2 linked regions of the Homo sapiens genome follow. The protein of the gene in region 2 purifies or fractionates together with the protein of the main gene of each other region. This does not show direct contact. Each region holds a gene or a part of one and is shown on either strand. Other genes may lie near its edges.

What was found.
Region 1: the proteins of SMU1 (region 2) and ARB2A fractionate together in Homo sapiens (co-fractionation; one large-scale study listed by BioGRID). This does not show direct contact.

What each region holds. Positions count from the first base shown.
Region 1 is NC_000005.10:93,881,164-93,884,663, forward strand, and holds part of ARB2A (cotranscriptional regulator ARB2A isoform 1 precursor), read right to left. Parts: intron 526-3,500; coding exon 307-525; intron 1-306. UniProt on the Homo sapiens protein: Plays a role in the regulation of alternative splicing, by interacting with AGO2 and CHD7. Seems to be required for stabilizing protein-protein interactions at the chromatin-spliceosome interface. May have hydrolase activity.
Region 2 is NC_000009.12:33,070,175-33,073,674, forward strand, and holds part of SMU1 (WD40 repeat-containing protein SMU1), read right to left. Parts: coding exon 3,422-3,500; intron 1,719-3,421; coding exon 1,566-1,718; intron 1-1,565. UniProt on the Homo sapiens protein: Involved in pre-mRNA splicing as a component of the spliceosome. Regulates alternative splicing of the HSPG2 pre-mRNA. Required for normal accumulation of IK.

The DNA.
Region 1 (3,500 bases), on a different chromosome or scaffold from region 2:
AAGTTTTCTGCCTTCTGCATCCATCACAATAAAATTATTTTAGAAAATTTTTCTTGAGGTAGTATATGACACAAAAGGAAACAGAATTTGCATTTGTGACTTCTATAAAATGTCACACTGAAATAAGAATGATGCGTTTTGTAATTCTGAATTTAAAAACCCATTTAATCCAAGTAGACGACTATGGGAAATAAATGATGACAAATAAAAAAATTAATATTCTTGAAGAAAAACAAAACAATCTACATATAATAAAATATATACAAGGTAAAGAAAATAGTAAAGGAAAGTAGTGATCTCACTCACTCTGATATACAATTGCATCATTTCTTTTTCTCTTTGGGGGTTACGATACTTCTCATAGAAATCACGTCGCTTCTTTGTTTCTTTAGAAACTTTATCTTTTCTTTCCCGTTTTTCTGCTGGTTCATCTGAACTATCAGATGATGACTGTACGTGTATCTTCGGCTTTTCTACTTCAATATAGTTTTCATTGGGATTTAGTACTATTACTCCATATCCTTCCTGTTTTGAAATGAAAGAAGGTAGCATAATTTAAATCTTATAATCCATTTCAATTTTCAAAAAAGTTCTTAAAATTTCAGTCTAAGCAATTTTTATATAGTTGCATATTCATTAAAATACTCCTTTAGGCAAGATAATGATTTTATTTTTTTCAAAAGAAAGTCATTTAAAATTGTTTGCCTTTATTGTGTATATAAATAAGCTTTTATTATTTATAAGAACAAAAAATATAATTGCAACATAAAGATTATAAAGCTTAAATTAAAAAACTAATTCAGATATCTCAGAACCCAAAAATGACTGAAATAAATTAGCAAATAATTTATTTTCAAGTAAACTTTCAAATTATATTAATATTTATACTATCTGTTTTGAGAAAACAACCTCTGAAATCAAAGTTTACAATTCAAACTACATTTTTTTGTATATTTTTCTTTACAATGGCCCTTTCAAGAGCATTTTTTATTTGTCTGAACAATTAAAAAGAATAAGCAGTTAAAAAAGAATAAATCTGATTTAACATTACAAAACCATCCATACCTACATTATTATAAAGACATAACATCTACTTGTGTACCTTGAATTTTATTCACTTTGTTTCTCACAGGAGGCCAGAAAAATCATGTAGCAAAATAAGCCACTGTCTTACTATAATGTATGGAAGCAAGTCTTTAATCTTAAAATTTCTTTCATTTTTCAACCTACCATAAAAATTCTCTTTATTAAAAACTATAATCAGGAAATAAGCAAGGTTCCAAAGTTAAAAAATACAGCTTGTTGAGCTATTAAGGCTTTTTTTTTTTTAAATTTGTAAAACATGTTTTCCTGTCTCATTTCTTTCTAGCCTGGCAAACATTTCTGTGGTTATAATTAAGAAAACGTTTGATATTTATATTATGTCTAATGGAATAAGCTAACCATGAGAAAATATAGAGAGGGATAAACAATAACCATTGACAAGCATGGGTAACACAAATTTTTGAAGCTATTATATATCTTGTCTTTTCTATTCAGTTATGTGTTGTGAGGTTCCAATTATGTCCTTGTAAAATACTATAAGGTCATATTTAAAAGATGTATGATATTATAATAAAAACATAAGAGCTACAGAAAATAGCTCACAAAATCTATTTATTAGAAAATCTATTTAATAGAAAATAAAACTTATAAAATCTCATCCTTACTTAAAATAGGTAGTATATATAGTTTTTCAAGACAGTAACTGTAGAATCTTCTACTTGAAGTTTAAATTTTAAATTTTTTGCCAAACCAACCATAAGATGATTTTAAAAAATTGACAGCAGTAATAGTAAACCAGTAATAGCACAGACTCAATTATCTTATTTTAAAATATGCTGCATTACTGCACATGGTTGGTTTTTTTAAACAGTTGATTTCACAAACTACTTACAAACTTCTTTGGAATTGTTTTCTATTTTTTCCTCCATCAGATGATATTATTGTCTAAAACGATTATTTAGTTTGGAAATTTTCAAGATCACTGAAGTTCTGATTTTAATGATAGGACTATTAATTAAGATACAGTCATCTTACATATATGGAAACTATATAATAATATATAGCAAACTGATTTACAAACCACCACCCATTCTTCAACAGATGTTCAAATAAAGCTTTTAGAATAATGCTTCTTTCACAAAAAGCTTATAAAACACTTTACACATTCTGTAATTTAAACTTTCTACATCAAAGCAAAAGAGAATTTTTTTTAAAGTTTCTTAGCTCTAAGTCAAAAGTTTTACCAACAAAAGATATTTTATTTGGTCCTGCTTTATTCTAATCTGTATAGCTATTCAAAAGTCTTGTAATTCATTGTGATCACTGTCAGGTAGACAGATTGTCACTTGGTGATTTTCTACAGTTGGACACACTTGACTAGTTATTAAAATCACATTTGAAGGAAGTTCCTACCCCTCTTCCTTGTGCCTCTTACAACTTTTCACGCCCTTCTCAAATTTCAGCTATAACTTCTCCTCCCACCAAAAGTAAGTTAAAGAACACTGTTGCACTCTGCTAAACAGGGTGAAATAGAGGCATTCAGTACACTGTCTCTGGTGTAAGGAACATAGTCAAAAAAGGTCACCATAGGCCAAAAAGAAAATTGCCTCCCTACTAGATTCTGTACCGTGAGTAAGTGGTCTCCTGTCATGTTTCTTCCTTGCCTTCTCTGAGTGAATTGAACTTTAAACACACATACACACATACACATACACATACACACACACACACACACACACACACACACACACACACACACCACCCTCTCATACTCAGGAGTTAAAATTAGCAAGACCAAAATAGAATCTTAAAATTAGTAGAGATGAAAATAGTGATATACTACATTTTAATGATAATATGAAAAATTTCAAATTCAAAAACTTCACTCAAGGTAAAAGAGTGGGACTTTAATAAGCTGAAATAACATGGCATCATCTTTGTATAATGAATAAATCTCAAATAAAGGTAAACTCTTTGAACAAAATTTACAGTCACCAGAATTGTAAGACTATTATCTTATTACTTAATCAAAAAAATAATATTTTCATATCTGGCTTATTTGAGCAGAACTTTAAACTTCAATTTTTAGAAATCATAGATTGAAAAATTATCGTGCCTACTTAATTTGAAATAAGACTCTGAAATTTGATATGTTCCATGTAAATAAGTATTTTAAAAAAGGCATTTATATATCATCAAAGAAGCAGTATTTGTCTAAGTAACTGAAAATTACATGACTCATCTGTTCAATATCATAAAGGCACAATGTCAATGTTTCCCTTAGGCATCAACAGATGAGAAATGATTCTATTTTTAAATCACCACTATATAAATCAATTGAAGATTTGTTATCATTTAGATTTCAACAATGGATGCTTCTATTTAAACACCCAAACTATTTAGAAAATATTTTATCCTTTAGATATTTCAGATTGCCAATTTAATTAATGTGACAA
Region 2 (3,500 bases):
CTCTACGGGAAAAAAATCTGATAATCCAATGTTAAAAATGGGTGAAAGATCTGAATAGACATTTCTCAAAAAAAGACACACACAAGGCAAACAGGTTTATTTAAAGGTGCTCAACACAACTGATCATTAGAGAAATGCAAATCAAACTACAATGAGATATCATCTCACTCCAGTTAAAATGGCTTTTATACAAAAAGACAGGAAATAACAAATGCTGGTGAGTAAGTGGAGAAAAAGGAACCCTCGTACACTATTAGTGGGAATGTAAATTAGTACAACCACTATGGAGAATAGTTTGGAGATTCCTCAAAAAATTAAACATGGAGGTACCATATGATCCAGCAATCCCACTGCTAGGTACACACCCAAAAGGAAATCAGTATATCAAAGAGATATCTGCACTCCCATGTTTATTACAGCAGTGTTCACAATAGGCAAGATTTGGAAGCAACGATAAGTGACCATTAACAGATAAATAAAGAAAATGAGGTACATGTACACAATGGTGTACTAGCTGGACATATAAAAGAATGAAATCCTGTCATTTGCAACAACATGCATGTAACTAGAGCTCATTATGGTAAGCGAAATAAGCCAGGCACAGAAAGACAGACTTTGCATGTTCTCATTTATTTGCAGGAACTAAAAATTAAAACATGGAGATAGAGAGTAGAAGGATGGTTGTCAGAGGCTGGGAAGGGTGGAGGTGGCGGGGGTAAGAAGGAAAGTGGGGATGGTTAATAGATACAAAAAATATAAAGAATAAATAAGAAATAGTATTTGATAGCACAACAGGGTGACTATAGCCAATAATAATTATACATTTTAAAATAACTGAAAGAATTGAATTGTTTGTAACACAAAGGATACATGCTTGAGGTGATGGATACTCCATTTACCCTCATTATGCACTGCATGCCTATATCAAAATATCTCATGTACCCCATAAATATATACACCTACTATGTACCCATAAAAAATTTTTTTTAATCCTTTTTCCTCCTATTTTGACAAACCTCTAGTAAAAGGCTGGGGGGGTGGGCAGGAAGAATGAAACCATACAGATAATAAGGTTTAGGAAGAATGAAACTATACAGATAATAACGTTTTGGAAGAATAAAAGACTATCATCATGCTCTACTGGTAAGCATAATCCGCGAAGAAACAAAAGCTTCTAGGGACTAAAAAGGCTAGAAGGAAACTACAATTGTTAGGGGCAAGACACACAAATGATCAGTGAACATACCAGCAGTCAGGCAGCACTTCGGGGAGGGCTAATGTGGAAATGACATCAGAATAAAATGTTCTGCTTTTTTTACTAACCAACACGCAATCCTCTAAACTGAGGTGTATAGAAGACTCAAATAATCAGAAAACTGAACAAAATTATTCTCTTTAACATACGCAAATTTCAGCCAACATATATAAACAGAGAAGCATCATTCTCAAAAATTAAATCAAAATCACAAAGAGTATACAATAAAATGGTAAAAAAAAAAAAAAAAGATCATGTTATTTCATTTCCAAAGTTAACAAAAAGTTCCTTTTCATTACCACAGTCATACCTCACGAGGATCAAAGTAAGACCTGGCCAAAAGGTTCTCCAGATGAATATATCGCTCTGGCTGTGTTTGTTTTAACATGATCATGGGATCAGTCTGTCTCAAAAGTGACCTGGCAGCACCCAATTCACGGAGCTCTATCAATTCCAGAACAACCTGGACAATTAAAAAAAAACAAAAAAAACCCCAGATGTTTCAACACACCGTCTTATTAATATTTTTCGGTAAAATATCTAACACAGATATGGCCTGTCAAAGGATTTCCAATACCAGGAAGTGCCCCTTTCCATTTTCACTAGCAATTTCAGGTGGACTTGGTGGGCTTGGTGGCTCATGCCTATAATCCTAACACTGTGGGAGGCCAAGATGGGCGGATCACTTGAGGTCAGCAGTTCGAAACCAGCCTGGCCAACGTGGTGAAACAGACTCTCTACTAAAAATACAAAAAAAATTAGCTGGGTGTGGTGGTATATGCCTGTAATTCCAGCTACTTGGGAGGCTGAGGCAGGAGAATTGCTTGAACCCGAGAGGCGGAGAGTGCAGTGAGCCAAGCTCATGCTACTGTACTCTGGCCTGGGCGACAGAGCGAGATCTGTCTCAATAAATAAATAAATAATAATTTCAATCCTTCAAACTCTATCCTTCATTTTTATCTACCAATCTCCCCTCCTCTCAGGCTTCTTGCTCAGAATGTAGATGCCAAAGAAAGCTAAAGATGGGAATATACCCATGGGCTCCAGAGAAACCTTTCTCCAGTTACCAAAATTTTCTTTGGGAATTATTGAACTCATACGGATTGTAAAGAAACAAACTGCCCAGACACGGCAGCTCACACCTGTAATCCCAGCATTTGGGAGGCTGAGGCAGGTGGATCACTTGAGGTCAGGAGTTGGAGACCAGCCTGGCCAATGTGGTGAAACCCCGTCTCTACTAAACACAAAACTTAGCTGGGCGTGGTGATGCACGCCTGTAATCCCAGCTACTCGGGAGGCTGAGGCAGGAGAATCGCTTGAACCCCGGAGATGGAGGTTGCAGTGAGCAGAGATCGCACCACTGCACTCCAGCCTGGGTAACACAGTGAGACTCTGTCTCAAAAAAAAAACAAAAAAAAAAACCCGTAAACAAAAACCAAAAACCAATTTCACTACTTTTACTTCAAATTACAATCTTATTTCCAGAAAGTCTACTCTGCTGTTTTATAATCACAAATTTGTCTGATCTTTGTCCTAGGTTCTTGGCTTGGAGCTTCTTGGAATTTGACCAGTGATAGGGGTATCTTTGTTACTCCTGGGCCCCTTGAATCACACCTGGGTTTGTGCAAAGGAAATGGCTCAGGATAGGTAGGAGCTAGTTATCAGAAAGACTAACTATGTGATTAGAAAGTTGAGGCTCTCTCGTGCCTGTAATCCCAGCCCTTTGGAAAGTCAAGGCTGGCGAACTGCTTGAGCCCAGGAGTTTGAGACCACCCTGGGTATTATGGTGAGATCCTGTCTCTACAGAAAAATGCAAAAATTAGGCAGGCGTGGTGGTGCGTGCCTGTGTTCCTAGCTACTCAGGAGGCTGAGGCAGGAGGAAGGATTGATCCTGGAAATGGAGGATGCAGCAAGCTGTGATCTTGCCACTGCACTCCAGAGTGGGTAACAGAACAAGATCCAGTCTCAAAAAAAGGAAAGAATTTTAATTTGGGAAATCCTGGATTTTCCAAGAAGGGAGAAAAAATACAATGTCAAGCCTTGCCATTGTTGTATGGGCTGATGCAGCCCTACCGTGCTTGAAGGAATGCTCACTGACGCTTTTTAGTTGGGGAGCTGGCCCACAACGAACCAACCCATGGGGATCAGCATCACCACCACTCTTACCTGTTCATAGAGGTCAATGAGGGTTTTGTCTGGCAATTTCAGAGACTGTATAGCCTGCAACACAGTATCCCAATGGCCA